Regions from separate parts of the Homo sapiens genome. Here region 2 is linked to region 1. The links come from fine-mapping of genetic effects on gene expression. Tissue or cell type: monocytes after R848. Region 1 holds a variant in brackets; the other region holds the start of a gene. All regions are shown on one strand. Distances are from middle to middle.

What was found. PIP is the estimated chance that this variant, and not a neighbour inherited with it, causes the effect.
Region 2: it holds the start of FOXF1, and the variant in region 1 is fine-mapped to the expression of FOXF1 in monocytes after R848 (Quach 2016, PIP 0.95).

The regions. Positions count from the first base shown.
Region 1 is chr16:86,330,812-86,338,911 of GRCh38, reverse strand. LINC00917 (long intergenic non-protein coding RNA 917) reads left to right here. Exons shown (of 7, transcript NR_024406.1): 2 at 80-162; 3 at 251-1,230; 4 at 1,320-1,551; 5 at 5,005-5,224; 6 at 5,868-5,953; 7 at 6,234-7,062. Among named protein-coding and RNA genes, the nearest start is that of LINC00917, 11 kb to the left of the region's middle. RefSeq lists an enhancer at 639-1,570 and a silencer at 1,395-1,689. The variant A/G (reference allele first, on the strand shown) is at 4,460.
Region 2 is chr16:86,506,977-86,515,076 of GRCh38, reverse strand. It overlaps FOXF1 (forkhead box F1), which reads right to left and starts at 4,550. Exons shown (of 2, transcript NM_001451.3): 1 at 3,529-4,550; 2 at 1-2,152. The coding sequence starts at 4,507. The coding sequence ends at 1,992. It overlaps FENDRR (FOXF1 adjacent non-coding developmental regulatory RNA), which reads left to right and starts at 6,217. Exons shown (of 4, transcript NR_033925.1): 1 at 6,217-6,422. RefSeq lists an enhancer at 2,291-3,057.

The sequences.
Region 1 (8,100 bases):
GGTCTGGTGTCTGAAGCCCATGCTGGGACAGGTGGGCTGTGCCAGGTGAGGTGGTTCAGGTCCTACCCTCTCTTTGCAGGGCTTGAGTCTGGGGGAGCCTGGCTGCCCAGAGGTGGCAGATGACATGAAGAAATAACCATGTAAGGGCTGGCTGTGTATGAGGTAAGGAGAAAGGAGATGGGGTTGGGGAGGAGGGGGACTCAGAGGAGGGAGGGAATGGAAGAGCAAACATCATGGCTTCCTCGTCTAGAGCAAGCATTGGGAAGGATGAATGCCAACTATGTTCCAGGAACTTCCACTGTTCTCACACACCCAGGTGAGTGGTGTTCAGGTGGGTGGCACCCAGGTGAGTGACATCCCAGTTGAGTGGCACCCAGGTGAGTAGCATCCAGGTGAGTGACACCTAGGTGAGTGACATTCAGGTTAGTGGCGTCTGTGTGAGTGGCATCATCCAGGTGAGTAGCTTCCAGGTGAGTGGCACCCAGGTGAGTGGCATTCGGGTGAGTGGCATTATCCAGGTGACACCTGGGTGAGTGGCATCCAGGTGAGTGATATCATCCAGGTAAGTGGCACCTAGGTGACATCCAGGTGAGTGACGACATCCAGGTGAGTGACATCATCCAGGTAAATGGCACCCAGGTGAGTAGCATTCAGGTGAGTGACACCCAGGCGAGTGGCATCCACGTGACTAGCATTGTCCAGGTGCATAACACCCAGGTGAGTGGCACCCAGTTGAGTGGTGCCCAAGTGAGTCACATCCAGGTAAGTGGGGTCCAGGTGGTGGCACCCAGGCGAGTGGTGCCCAGGTGAGTGACAGCCAGGTGAATGGTGTCCAGGTGAGTGGCATCACCCAGGTGAATGGTGTCCAGGTGAGTGGCATCCAGGTAAGTGGTGTCCAGGTGGTGGCACCCAGGTGAGTGGTGTCCAGGTGAGGGGCATCACCCAGGTGAATGGTGTCCAGGTGAGTGGCATCCAGGTGGGTGGTACCGTCGACGTGACAATAGCTAAAAATTATTGGGCTCATTGTGGACAGGCACTGTGCCGAGCTTGACATCACTGAACTCAGTTCATCCTCGCCAGGAGCTTGTGGGCCGTCCCTAGATCAGAATCCGAGGAGAAAGGACTTCCACACGGCAGCCAGCGAGCTGGAGGGCGGCCTCCTGCCACCACCAGGCTCCCTAACCCAGTCCTGGATATCTGTGAAAGAATGAGTGGATCCCCACAGGCCAGGTGGGCGGGGACGGAGGGCTATTGTTTCCTGGGACAAACGTGTGTGGGGAGCTGAGTGTTTCTCCTTTCTCAGCCCTGACTTCCCACAGCTATCCCCAAACACACTCGTTTACACTGAAGCACCAGGAGATCAGAACCTTCTGGAATCTTAATATGCGAGGACTCGGTGGAGAAGGCGGCACTGAAGAAGAGTCGTCCCTAGGCCAGGCTGGAGGGAAACTCAAGACGGCGGCCTGGCCCTCCTGGGTGGCGGAAGTGGGAGCAGCAGGAGCCCTGGCGGATCCGGGAGGCCAGAAGAGCGGAAGCTTCCTCCCCTCTCAGGTGCGTCTCAGCCTCTGCTGGCAGCGCTGTGCCCCACTCCCCGCCCCTGCATCTCCTAGCTCAGGAAATGAGCCCCCGGGTGTCACCCCCTGAATCTCCCAGCACGGCCTTAAGGCCCGCACAACCTTCAGTGTCTGGGGTCAGCCTGCAGCGGGTCAGGGGTTTGCTTCCTGCAGCCCAGGCTGAACCCCCTCTGCGTGGGGATGAGGAGGCTGAGCCCCCTCTGCGTGGGGATGAGGAGGCTGAGCCCTCTCTGCGTGGGGATGAGGAGGCTGAACCCTCTCTGCGTGGGGATGAGGAGGCTGAACCCTCTCTGCGTAGGGATCAAGGGGCTGAACCCTCTCTGCGTGGGACTGAGGAGGCTGAGCCCTCTCTGCGTGCGGATGAGGAGGCTGAGCCCTCTCTGCGTGGGGATGAGGAGGCTGAACCCCCTCTGCGTGGGGATGAGGAGGCTGAACCCCCTCTGCGTGGGGATGAGGAGGCTGAACCCCCTCTGCGTGGGGATGAGGAGGCTGAGCCCTCTCTGCGTGGGGATGAGGAGGCTGAGCCCTCTCTGCGTGGGGATGAGGAGGCTGAACCCCCTCTGCGTGGGGATGAGGAGGCTGAGCCCTCTCTGCGTGGGGATGAGGAGGCTGAGCCCCCTCTGCGTAGGGATCAAGGGGCTGAACCCTCTCTGCGTGGGACTGAGGAGGCTGAGCCCTCTCTGCGTGCGGATGAGGAGGTTGAACCCCCTCTGCGTGGGGATGAGGAGGCCGACCCCTCTCTGCGTGGGGATGAGGAGACCGAACCCTCTCTGCGTGGGGATGAAGGGGCTGAGCCCTCTCTGCGTGGGGATGAAGGGGCTGAGCACTCTTTGCGTGGGGATGAGGAGGCTGACTCCCCTGTTGCTGTTCCCTGTGGCTTGGGGGCCCAGGCTCCCCATGGAGGCCGAGGGCTTCCAGCCCAGCGGAGACTGGAATAGGTTCTGCTGTCCCCACAGGAGGAAGCAGACAGAAGATGAAAAGGGGTGGGAGACAGGCAGGGGAAGGGAAGGGAGAGAAAGAGGGAAAGCACAGAGCAGAAGGAGACCGGGAGGGAGGGACCCTGTGCTCAGATCCTACTCAAAGTTTGCAGACAACTCACTGCCGTCCACCCTTCCCTGAAAAGCTTTGCAAAGATGAGGGGGTTGGCTGGTTTCAGAGTAGAGGTTTATGAGGAAAGGGTGATAAAGGCTTTAACAGTCACCAGGTCCCAGGGTGTTCGCCCTTCATAAGCCTGTGTGCTGGGAGGGATGGCAAGTGGGCCAGAGGCCCTTTTGTCTCGGGAACACAGGCCCTTGGAAGTCTAGCAGGAAAAGGCGGCTCCCAGGAGACCATCTATTCACATTCATCGGAAATGGCAGCCACTGGCCCAGAGGCCGGGGAGGGTGGGTGGAGGGAGCAAGGGGCGGGGCAAGGATGAATCATTCATTCATTCATTCATTCATTAGGCCAGCAAATATTTCTTTAGCAGCTACAGTGCATTCCAGGCCCTGGTCTCTATGCGGGAGAAGCCAGCAAAGACCCTGTCCTCAGGAAGCTTCCATTTCAGTGCGGGAGGACCCACAATCCATGAGGCCCCGGGCCTGCGGGTGTCAAGTCCTGCGAAGGAAAATAAGGCAGGGAAACAGGCTGGAGACTGCGGGTGCTGCGTGATGTTGTTTAGGTAGGGCCTGAAGGGAGGGAGGGGTGGCCACTACTGGATCCCCAGATCTCCGCACTCCTGCAGAGACAAGAGGAGCCAGTGCAGAGATGGTGCCGTGGCCAGAGGTGCAGGGGCCATCCAGGGGCAGGCAGGAGGCCGGAGTGGACGCAGCGAGGGGGAGGGGCAGGTGGGATTGGCTCGGGGAGGCCTTGGGCCCTGTTAAGAGCCTCAGATTACACCTGGCTGAGTTGGAAGCTGTTGGAGGGTTCGGAGCAGGGCCGAGATGGGACCCAACTCAGGTGTTAAAGAATCACATTGGCTGCTGTGTTAGAACTGACCAGTGGCAGGCCAGGCGCTAGCAGGGAGGCGCGTTCTGGGCTACTGTGATGACCCAGGTGACAGAGGGTGGCACCAGGACCTGCACAGAAAGTAGAGAAGGTGGTAAAAAATAAATATACAAAGTATGCAAATATATGTATAGATATGTAATTACATATTAATTATATATAAAATCTAACATATGTATATTAATTATATAAAAAATTATATATGTAATTTGCAGAGAAACTTATTTTGTATTCCTTCCTAGACAGGGATCCTTGGGAGATACAGGTTTGTCCATTTTGGCCGAGAAAGAACAGCCCCTGACCCATAGCAATCCTCTTTCAGTAACTGTTGAAGAAACAAAAGCCATTTCTTAGCAGGAAGCTGAGACCCCAGAGGCTGAAATTTCACTCAGACCCAGGAGAGCCAGAGTCCGGAGAATCCCCCTGGTCTCCGCCCCTCAATCCCAAAGTGAGGGTCTTTCTCAGGGTCCCTGGAAGAGCTGGTGGGAAAGCGGTTTATGAGTTTCTGAGTGCCGTCCCTTGCTCTGGGCAATGTCCTCTGAGATAAGAGACTCTTAAAATGGAAAGGACAAGCCACTCAAGGCTCTCCTCCCGAAGAGATGGGAACCATCCCTTCCCCATCCCCGTCTTCCCTCCTCCCAGGCCCCCTCTGACCCAGGCCCCCTCTGTACCGGTTCCCCCGCTGTGTGCACCCAGCCTCCTCACAGTGGCCTTCACTGAGCCCCACCCTGGGTTAGGGGCAGTCAGGCCCTGGGAATTCACAGAAGATAAGGCGGTCCCTGCCCTGCTCATCCCAGCCCAGGAGTCTGGCAGACTCATCAAGTGAAACCATTTTCTGTGCCTTCTGCCTCTGTTTTGGGAACTTAATATGCATCATGATAAAAGTGACTGTGATAGCA[A/G]AACACCCTTTAAAACACCCTTTAAAGATTGCATGTTGAAATACAACAAAAATACAGACAAGTATGCAAATCACAGGCATGCAGCTTAGTGAATTTTTGTGAAATCATCCCTGCCCTGGAGCCAGCCCCTCAGCCCAGAGGCTCCGGTGCCCCTCCTGGCTGCCACTCCCACCTCCTGATAACGCCTGTGACGCCCCAGCCAATGAGGGAGGCAGAACTACTACGAGTGGTGTGGAATAACAGATTTATGACAGGGATTTAGACCCTCCGCAATTGTGGGAGGAACTAGGGGGGTTCAGAAGCAAGTTCCTCCCCAAGGAGGCTTCCAGAAACATCAGTGAGTGCAGCTTGCAGGGAAATCCAGAAAGCCGGCTGGCACGTGGAGAATGGGGACGGGAGGCAGTGGAGGGGTCTGCGGGGCACAGCTGCTTCTGTGACTGGTGGTCCCTGGGTCACTGGTGGTCAGTGAGGCTTACAGTTGGGGAGACAGGGAGAACAAGAGCAAGTTGTCATCAATCAGCACCTCCTTGCCTGTCTCTCCCCAGGACAGCCACAAGGACTTTCGGGGGTCGTGGCAGCTGCTCCACTTCCAACTTCCAGATCCCTCTCACTTTCCTCTTCCCACCAACTCCAACCTGGGACCAAGCAGGGGAAAGCAGCTGCAGCCCAGCTTGACGCCCCTGCAAATGGAGACCTGTGCACCTGGTTGTGAGCATTTTAAAGGGTGTCACACAGGGCATACCCTTCGGTGCCTGGATTCCTTTGGTAAGTGTTATATTAGGGAGACGCACCCTTGCTGTTGTGTGTGGCAAGATTTGTGCATTCTCATTTTTCCATGATATTCCTCTGCATACCTATCCCATAATTCACTGATCCATCCTAGTGTTGAAAAGCATTGAAGGAGTTTCTGGTCATTGGCTGTTACAAACAGTGATGCCCGAATGCTCTGGTGATGGTCCTTTTGTGGACGTGGACACATTTTTCTTGCAATTGTGCCTAAATGTGGAATCTCCAGGTGGGAGGCTGTGCTCATATTCAGCTTCAGTAGAGAGTTCGTGTCCCATGGGAGCTGCACCCCCGATTATGTTTCCTGTTGCAAGCCCTTTTTACTCCTGGTCTTGGGTTCAAATGTTGATTCCCTTCCTTTCTAGCCATTTGACCTGGAACCATCTAGGTAACCATGCAGAGCAACAATTTCCTGCTTATCTGTAAAATAGGGATAAGAATAGTACCTCCCACCCGGGTCCCTGTAAGGAAATGCGGCAGTCCAGGAAAATTGCTTAGAATAGTGACTGTCACGTACAAATTCTCAACATATTAGGTGTTATTACTCTTTTTATTTATAATAATAATGATGGCCTTATCAAATTATTTGGAGGCAATCTGACTTTATCTGTAATTTGCATAGATGAAAGGGCAAAGCCTTGAACCTAAGTCATCTTCGAGTCCTCAGCACTTCACCCAGAGCCTGGCACACAGTAGGAGCACAGAAAGGTTTGTTGCATGGAATTAAGCACTCACGCTGGAGAGTGGATGTTCTTTGCTCAGTGCACTCAATCCCTCCCACAGCACAGCACACACCACAAGGATCGTGCCCCACAGACACATGGGGAAGACTGGGTGCAGAGTCTTAATCTTGACTCCCGTTTGCTGAGGCTCTCAATGTCTCAGGAAACCCTTAGATAACCTCATTTAATCCTCACAACAACCCGGCAAGGTGGGCTATGGACCCCCGGTTGATGGATGACGAACCCCCCCATCCCCTGTCCCCCAGGTTTACATCCAGCAGGAGTTGGCCCTGAGCTCTGAGTCCAGATCATTGCTCTTGGCTGAAGCAGCCTGTCTACTCACAAAGATGAGCATGGTCCCTGCCACGAGGAAACTCGTGGTCCTGTGGACTGCGGTGTGGAGGGAAAGCTTGGGATTCTGAGCCTGATAATGCACCATTACATCCCCACTCACTCGGGCTGTGTGAACCCAGCAAGTCACAGGATCACTGGGTGGTGAAAGAAAGAAACACTCACAGAAGCGTCTGTGCTTGGAGAGCCATCTGGTCCGTCATTGTGACTGCTGCTCTCATTGCTATCATGGGTGTCACCATTGCCATCACTCAAGGACTTCTCTCCAGGCCCCGAAGCCAAGCTGGTGCCTGGTTCCTCTGGGTTGGGAGAGGGGCTGGGCATGGACAGGAGGAGGGAAAAGGGACCTGTGCTAGCAGGTGATGCCATCCAAGACATCTGCATCCTAATCCCTGGAACCTGGGATTCCACTAGGTGCCATGGCAAAGAGGGATTAAGGTGGCAGGTGGAGTGAAGGTTGCTAATCAGCCGACCTTAAAGTAGGGAGATGATCCTGAATGAGACAAAAGAGAGAACCAGTCATGGTGTCATGAGAAGGACTCAAAATGCAACTGCTGACTTTGAAGATTAAGGGGCTACAAACCAAGGAACGTGGTAGTCTCTGGAAAAGACAAGGAATAGACGCTGCGTTGGGGCCACCAGAAGGAACCAGCCCTGTCAACACCCTAATTTTAGCCCAGTGAGGCCTGTGCTGGACTTCTGACCTCCAGAACTGTAAACTAATAAATGTGTGTTGTTTCTGCCACTAGATTTGTGGGAATTTGTTAGGGCAGGCATAAGAAACTGATACTGTGGTATTCCCTGCTGTGTCCCCAGGACCTCGTGGCCAGTAGGCTCACAAAAAATATCTATTTAATGGACAAACATCGTGAAGGAAATGCTTTTCTGTGAGCCTACCGTGTGCCAGTTTTTTGACACTGTGTGAGTTGTCAGATTCAGCAAATAAAAATACAGAATGCCCAGGTAGAGTTGAATTTTAGATAAACAACACACCACATTTATAAAAGTATGTTTCATGCTATTGTAAGAAACGTTTATTATTACTTGAAATGCAGATGTACCTGGGCGTCCTTATTTCGTCAGGCAACCCGTGCGGTCCCTTCCCAGATAACCCAGCAAGCCTCAATCCGTAGCCAGAAGGGAGAGCGGAAGTTCGACAGCAGACCCCATGCCCTTGCTTCCGCCCTGATGCACCCTGCAACTTCCCAAAGTGGTGGGTAATGAGCCAAACACCTCATCAAAGGGTCCTCCATGGGACAGGCAGGATGCACCACCTCCCATCAGGTCCCTAGATGCTTGGAGGAAGCACATTTGAGGGGCATCTTCCTTGAGCTAAAGCTGAGACCATCCGATCTCTGATGATTCTACGGGGCAAAGCCCTCTCCGCTCCTTCCAGAGGAACGGAAAGGATTCAAGTGGGATCCACGGTCAGATAGCGAGGGCCTGGGGCAGGCCTTGGTCGCGGGTGTCTTCCTGCGGAGTCGGCATTCCCCTGAGCGAGGGCCTGAGGAAATCTGCTAAGGAAGCAAGAGGCCAAGGGAAGTCCTTCCTTCAGAGGGTGGGAGTGCTCGCGGGAGGGAAAGCCACCAGCATGCAACATGAGACAGAATCTTGCCTTCCTATTTCAGGGAAAATGCTACAAAAATAGGGTCCATGTGGAATTCTCTTTCCCCTACGGCACTCTGCTGGAGGAGGGGCTGGTCAGTTCCTGAGGTTCAGCGACCCCCTGGCTTGGATGGACTTTCGCAAACACCTCCAGGAAATACCTTATCAAATATGGTC
Region 2 (8,100 bases), 180 kb before region 1:
CCTTTTGCCTCATTTAGATTTTGCTTGATTTTCTATCGGGGAAAACCAAGAACAAGGCACCAAAAAGCCAAAACAAAACAAGACAAACCAACAACTACAAAAAAACCTTAAAGTTGATTCACGATTTATAACAGCTACAGCAAGAGAACAAGAAAGTCGGAAACCCAAAGTAAAACTCTCATTGGTCTTGTAGTGGCAAAAAAATATATATTATGTACATGGACACGTATACATATATGTACATATATGTATATACATATATATGTATATCCATATGTATGTGCACATATATGGTTTAATTGGTGTTCCCTAGGGGAAGGAGGTCTATAGTGTTCTTTAAAAGTTTATTTCTTTAAAACGATCAATGACATTTAGAGGGGCAAAGGGCTCTTCTTAAAAAACAGAAGCCAAGAAAAATAGTTCCTCTTGTCCAGCGTTTACTTCAAAGTGGAATGAAGAGTGAAAAGAGGAGGATTTGCCAAAAAAGAAAAAAGTACTCAGAATCACCCAGATTGTAAATTTTTAAGCGTCTAGAGATCCAAAGCCTGTTTTTTCTTTTTTCCCCCCTCTATCTTTGGGAGTCTGGAAGGTATTCTACAATCTCAGTCCCAATAAAATACTCATGCAATTTTATTTCTAGTTGATACAATTTTAAAGGCCATGTACAAATGTTATACATTTTTATTTTTGTTCTTTTTTTAGGAAAAAATACACAAAAGGCAAAACATCCTCAAATGGTCCTTTTATACAGTGCAGAAGGAAATTTCAAATTTCAAATACGTGTCACAAATGCTGCACTCTAGCAGCCAAAATACAAAAAAAAAAAAGGAGGGTAGTCCTTCATATTATATATATATTTATATAAAACATATGGAAATTTGTTTTTACACAGATCGGTCTTTGTTTCAAATTTACAATGGATATCTAAAAAAAATTCTACACGGCAAATATTGCCAACAAAGTTACACCATTAATACTGATAAACGGAGGAGCCTACGCGGTGTTTTGATTATTAGGGAAAGAAAGTAGAATAAATAAACAGGAGCCTTGCTATAGTTTTTAAAAGTGCCTTAACCTTTCTGCGTCCCCGCAATCCTGAATCCGCGCGGTCACCGGGCCGTCCTAGTCCCTGCGTCGCGCTGTGTTCGGCTCGTTCTCGGACCAGAAAGTTTACAGTAGAGGTTGGGAGACAGAAAAATACCCACTGAAAAAGTCTAAATAAAATTCAAGACAAAACATAACAGAAGAGGCTGAAGCGAAGGAAGAGGAGGAACATGGAAGGGGACGGAGGCGGACGCCCGGACGGCCGCTTGCTTCGTGGCTCCTTTGACTTTCTGTTTAAAGACGGACAGTGGCTTCCGAAATGCAAGTTGTTCGCACAAAGATCCACCTGTGGTCCACGGAGGAGACTTCGGAGGTGGGGAGGGAGATCGGGAGGGAGATCTGAGCTCTTGTCACTTCCCGCTCCCTGCAAAAGACGGCTCTAAAGGGAGACTTGCGCATTCCAAGACATTCTTTCAAAAAAAAAATAAAAAATAAAAAGATAAATACTCAACCAAAAAATAAAAGTATTTGATAATGATTGGTCTCACATGTTTGCTTTTCTTCTAAAAATTTTCCCCCACTTCTGCCATTGGCCGGAAGGAGGGGGGACCTCAGCAGAATTCCTGTGTGGGTGCGGGGGCTTTCCCCTGCACAGCACCGTCTCAGGCGGGTTCAACAGGATCAAAAACTTTTATTTACCGATGGCTGCAGTCAGATCAGACCCACCACTAACATTTCTTAACAATTTTGAAGGAGTGAGGAAGGAGGTGCCAACCGCAGCGCTGTGTCTTTGCATTGGGGACTCCTTGCCAAAAACTCCGGTTGGGGAGAGGTGGAACCCTTTTCTTCTGCCGACGGTTATACCTCGAGAAGAAAGCAGTTTCTTGTGCCGGTCCAGGGTCCCTGTGACCCGCCTGCCTGCACCAGGAGGGCCTGCGGCGGCAGCCTCACATCACGCAAGGCTTGATGTCTTGGTAGGTGACCTGCTGGTGGTAGTAGGAGCCCCCGCCGGCCGAGTGCATGGAAGAGGACGCCATGGCGTTGAAAGAGAAGACAAACTCCTTTCGGTCACACATGCTGGGCGACTGCGAGTGATACCGCGGGATGCCTGCAAGGCGAGGCGACAGGAGGGGTTGGGGGAGCAGAAGAGTTAGCCACGGTGGCTCAGAGTTCAGGCAGAGGAGCAGTGCTCCCGTGGGGCGCACAGGGCCTGTCAGCCTGGCTCCAGAGCACGGCCGCCTCCCCGCTCTCCTCCCCGAGTCCCGGCCTTCCAGCTGCGCACCCAAGGAAAAGACTCCAGAACACTTGCCACGGCCTGCCTGCCTGCCTGCCTGCCTGCCTGCTGCGTGCCTGTCCAGCCTCGGACACCGTGCAGGGGCCCAGGGCTTCCAGAGCCATAGGGGAAGTGGTGAGGGAGACCAAGTGGAGGGCCCCTAACGCCCATGGCCGTCACCGCCAGGGCAGCCACCACCACCCCCAACCTCAGAGGCTACGACTGCCGGCGGGGTTGAAGGAGAGGCCAGTGCAGGGCCAGCGCCGGGCCAGCAGCAGGGGTGAGAAGAAGCTTCTCCAGAGAACAGGCCCCGGAGCCGGGGAGTCCCCCGCAGAGAGGCTGCCTAAGGCCTCCAGGCCTGGCTCCTGCCTCCTGGGGCTGCTGACAGCTGACCCTGGACTGGCCCTGGCAAGCTCACTCCAGCTTTTTCCAGAGCTGGGCCTGCAGGCTGCGGGGGGCCTGGGGCAGAATCAGGAGGCGAGGCTGCTGCATCTCCCTTGGCAGATGCTTCTGCATGTTCGGGGTATTGGGGTATCAGGGGTGTTGGGGGTGTGGGGACCTGAAAACTTGGATCCTAAAAAACAAGGAGCCCCCATGGCCCGGTCTGCAGCTCTGACCCTCCGGGGCCTGGCCACGGCACCCTCCTGCCTCAGTCACCACAAAATGCCCCTGGACTCAGCTGTGGGTCTGCCAGGTCTGGTCCCCTGAAAGGCCGGGGCTGAGCCTCTGAGCGCTGGCCCAGCGGCTTTGGGCCTAACACCTTCCGTTCCGCCCAGCCCCAGGCAGAGGCAGCCCTCCAGGCAGCCTGAGGGCCACCACCAGGGAGGGACAGCCATCTGGCCAGCGCTGGGAGCCTTGGGTCCATCCCAGGATCTTTCCAAGCTGTGAGGGGACTTAAGGGACACAAAAGGACTTAGGGCACTGGGGTCTGGGACATCTGGCTCAGGACCAGCCTACCTGGTCAGGCCTGGAGCAGCTGGCAGCTGGAGTTCGAACAGAAAGAGAAACAGATTGGCCCAAACTAGGGTCAAGAGCGGTAGTCACTCTTCGAAGGGGGAGAGGTGGGGCCAAGAGACACCTTGGGGAGCTGGTGCCTCCCCTCAGCCTTGGGGTTCCGACCACAGAAGTGGAGGGGCTCGCCCCAGCTGGGTCCCGCTGCCACTCAGACTCGACTTCCCGGGGACCAGGGCGCCCTCGGCCTCCCCACTCACCTTGCAGCTCGGCTGGGGCGTTGTGGCTGTTCTGGTGCAGATACGGCTGCTCCAGGGAGTGCGTGGAGAGGCTGCCGGACAGGGGGTTGGCCGCGGGGTTACAGGGGGACAGGGGCTGCTGCTTGATATAAGAGGCGCCGCTGTTGAGCGCCGCGGACGCCGAGGGCGGCCAGGCCGCCGCCGAGCCCGAGTAGACGGCGTGCGGCTCCATGACCCCACCGGCGCCGGTGGGCAGCAGCGGGGAGGCGGGCACCGAGCTGTCGTGGTGCGGGTACTCGCCGGCCGCCGCGCCGCCGCAGCCGCCCATGTACGAGTGGCCGCCGTTGGAAGGCAGGTGGGGCACCGAGTGGCTGGGCAGGGCCATGCCGTCCACGTTGCCCGGCAAGTGGCCGTTCATCATGCCCAGGCCGCCCTCCAGCGCCAGGCTGTTGGGCGGGCACGAGAGGCCGCCGGCCGAGCCCTGGAAGCCGTAGGTGTCCGGGAGGTGGTTGAAGCCGAGCCCGTTCATCATGCTGTACATGGGCTTGAGCGCCTGGCATTTCCTTCGGAAGCCGCGCGGCCGCCGCCGAAAGGAGCCCTCCTCGAACATGAACTCGCTGGCCGGGTCGATGGTCCAGTAGTGGCCCTTGCCGGGCCGCCCAAGGCCCTTGGGTAGCTTGATGAAGCACTCGTTGAGCGAGAGGTTGTGGCGCACGGAGTTCTTCCAGCCCTGGTAGGAGCCCCGGAAGAAGGGGAAGCGGCTCTGCAGGAACTGGTAGATCTCGCTCAGCGTCAGGCGCTTGGTGGGTGAACTCTGGATGGCCATGACGATGAGCGCGATGTAGGAATAGGGCGGCTTCTCCGGGCGCCGGATGCCGGCGTTGGTCTTCTTGGCCTTGGACGGGCCGGACGACGCGGGGTCCATGGCCGCGCCGCCTCCCCCGCCGCCGCCGCCGCCGCCGCCGTGCGGTGGCTGCTGCTTCTCGGGCGCCGAAGACATCGGGTGGCTGCTGCCGCCGCCGCCGCTGCCGCCGCTGCTCTGCGCCGCGGACGGGCCGGGAGGAGGAGGAGGAGGAGGAGGAAGAGGACGACGGGGGGGAGGAGGGCGAAGGGGAGGGGGCTGCGCGCGCGGGGCTGGCTGCACCTCTGCCGTCATCGGCGGCCACTTCTCCCGAGCGAGCCGCGGCGCGCCCGCCCCCGCGCTCCCGCCCGCCCTCCCCGAGGAGCTGCTGGATCCGCCGGCGGTTGGCTCAGAGCCCCTCTCTCTCCAACTCCCGCCTCCCCCACCTCTCTCCTCCCTCTTTCTTTCTCGCCCTCCCACAAGGAAAGGAGCCGAGCTGAGGCCGAGGGCAGCCCGGGCGAAGGCCGTGAGGAAGCTACCCCCGCCGGTATTTTTTGGGGGGAGGCACCACCTCCAGGTCTTACGGCCGTGCGCCCCAGCCGGGAGCAGCCCTGAGTCCCCGCCGCCCGCGGCGCTCGGCTCCGAGATTCCGGGCGAGGCAGCCTTCACTCCATCTCCGCTCGGCTGCGTCTCGCGGGTCGGCCTAAGACCCTCCCGGAGTTCCCTCCCTCCGTCCCTGCCCCCCTCGGGCCCCCGCGTTGGTGGGCGCTTAAAGAGCCCCCACTCTCGCCGCCCCGCGGCCGCCAGCAGAATCCGCCCCGCCTCCACCAACCTGGCGAGCAAGTGTTAATGCGCCCTCCGCCCGCGGTTCAGCCCCGGTGCGCGCTGGACCCCGCCTTCCCCGCCCGGGCGGCGCGGCGGGAAACGCTCCCTGGGCCGGGGCCTTCCCCGACGCGCACAGCCCTGTAGCAAATCGCAAGTGCGGCGGCCTCCCGGTCGTGACCATCGCAGGCACAGCCGGCTCGACTCCGGTCCTCGCGGCCGGCCGGCTAAGTTCCCGCGAGGGACCGCCTACCCACTCTCCCCGCCCCGGGAAGAACTGCGCCGCTCCCGGGATTTTTCGGACTCGCCCAGCAGCTTGCGAGCGGGCGGGCAGCCGCCGGGGCAGAGCGCAGGCGGAAAACGAAAGCGCAGCACGAGTCGCGGCCGCTTTGTCTCGGGCGCCGCGGGCCTGACGGGGGCGAGTGAGAACCCGCTGGCCCAGAGGCGACCCAGACCGCACAGGCCCCTGAATAAGCGGCGTGCTCAGTCACTCACCCGTGCGCGCACACCCTCGCGCTCTTGTCCACACATTAGCACACACATACATGTCTTGATGCACATGCAAACCCGGTAAATTACGCAAACAGACGTGTAAACACACCCATGCGTGTGTGCACACTCATATGCAGAGGGCGCTCAGGCATGTGCGCACCCACTAATGCACTCGTTGACACGGAAGCTTAAGGCCCACAGGAGCTTAAGTTCGCACTCACTCCCACTCACGCGTACACACGCCACGCTCGGATCTGAACTCACACGTAGTTCAGTTGCCCTCCCCCACCCCCAACACACACTGAAAACCCGCCTATTTGGCCCCGCGGCCCCGTTTTCAAAGCGCAGGTTCCGATTTCCCGAGAGATGGCAAAGGCCCTGGCAGGAAGTTTACAGGGTTTAACGTAAACAAGTTCTGGGGGATTCTTTAATAATAATAATAGAGAATTCCGCGTGCGCAGGGCGGGAGGGGGGAGTTGGCCTAATGCCCCTGTGGGCTCGGCCTGCCGCCGCCGCGGGGCCTCTGACACTGCGCGCCAGGCCAGGTTCCTGAGAGCAGACAGCGCGGGCTGGGAGCGCCGGCAAGGGCGGCCCTCGCGCACCTGGCTGCCAGCCCGCAGGGGGCTCGCACGCAGACCTGCCCTTGCCACCTCAGCGCTCGGGTGCGGGCTGGGGGCGGTGGAGCCACGAAAGGTGGTGCCGAGAGCGGAGCGCAGGACAGCGCAGGAGCCCCGGCGCATCGCGGCGCGCACAGACCCAGGTGAGTGCTGCTCTCGCAGCGACTGCTGGCCGGGCGCGGCCTCTCCCTCCAGGGTTCCGAGTTGAGAAGAGGGGGGCGAGGGGTGTTTTCGCGGGTCATCGCGAAGAGCCTAGAGGCCAAGCCCCAGCGCGAGCTGGGGCGAGAGGCGTGTGCCGGGCTCGCAGCACGGCCCGCGGCGCGGCGCGTTCAAAGCCTACCCGCCTCTCGGTTTTCTCCGGACTCCTTGTCTCCCGCTAACTACCCGCCCCCACCTTCCTGGCTCGGACGCCTTCATTTTCGGCGGGAGACGCCTGTCGCCTTCGGGGCGCCTGGCACGTCGGTGAGAGGAGCTGGGGGGCTCGCCGGCGCAGCCTGCCGGGCAGTCGCCGCCTCCTCCGCCAGATCTGCGCTCGCGGGAGAAGAGAGCCGCCTTCCCGCGCTGCCCTTCCGCTGGCCTCTCTGGGTCTCCGCGTGCAGACAGCCTGGCCCGCCTAGGGAAAGAATGAGTGTGGGACGTGACCCGTAGTGTGTGGTTGTGCATTCACGCAGGTAAACGCTCTCTGGCAGACCCGCTACCACTTCACACAACCAGCTCAGCCTCCGCGCACACAGACACGCTCCGCACCGCCCACGGCCTCAAACACCCTTCCCAGCGACCCTCACACAGCTCAGGCGCTCCCAACCCTTGGACCAACACACAGGCCTGCCCAACGGGGAGGGCACACTTTGGTTTAAGTGCACACTTCATGCACGCCCACATGTTCTCCACTGCGCGTTCGCCCACGCATAGCCAGGCGCCACGCGCAAATAATCATAGGTACCGCCGCTCCATACGTGCGCACGCGTCCACGAACACAAGCATTCTCACATTCTCTCCCAACTTTTGTGTGTGTGTGTGTGGCAAATGGCAGTTGCAGATGAGGAGACCCTGGCCTCCGGAGGAAAGTTCTGTTCCCAGGAAGGGGTCGCTACTGCCGACTGCCAGAGCACATCTGGCCCTTAGCAGAGGTGAGCAGAGAAGGCTGCACAGCTCTTAAGCCAGCTAGGGGTGCAGGGCGCACGCTGCGGCTCGCTGAAAGTGGAAATAGCATCTCCCTTCCCCTCGCCCCTCCCCCACTCATGGGGCGCCTTCAAAGTGAGCGGGTCCCTAGAGCATGAAGTTGGGGAGCCCTTTCCCAGCAGACTCCTTCACTCCTGGGCCCTCTTCAGTTGGGGAAGGGAAGCCGCAGGTCCCATCGTTGGCTAACCCGGAGATCCATTTTTCCCTCCTTTCCACCCTTCTTTCTGCCCTTTCACCGGCTCTGATAGCAAACCAGACCTTACAGAACAGCCAGTCACGGAGCCCAGCGAAAGAGCCGGCCCAGTAGGCCTGGGAGTCTCAGGAAGGCCAAAGATGGAGGCTCTCCCCAACTGCTCATCTCTACTGCTGGGTGTGTGTAGAAGTGGGGGCGTGAGAGAGGAGGCGAATGAGCTCCCAGCTCTGTAATTTGGAGGGGACCCCCTGAATTCTGGGGAAAACCACAGCCGTAGCAAGAAGGGCTTTCCTTCATGCTCAGAGACTTCATTCTCAGCTCTTACAATGTCCCTGAGAGGTCTCCCTTGATCCTACATTTTTAGGGTGGAGAAACTGAGGCTCAGCATGGACTTGAATCTCTTATCAGCCAGCACTGAGAGGTGAACACTCTCCATCTCCCCTCTC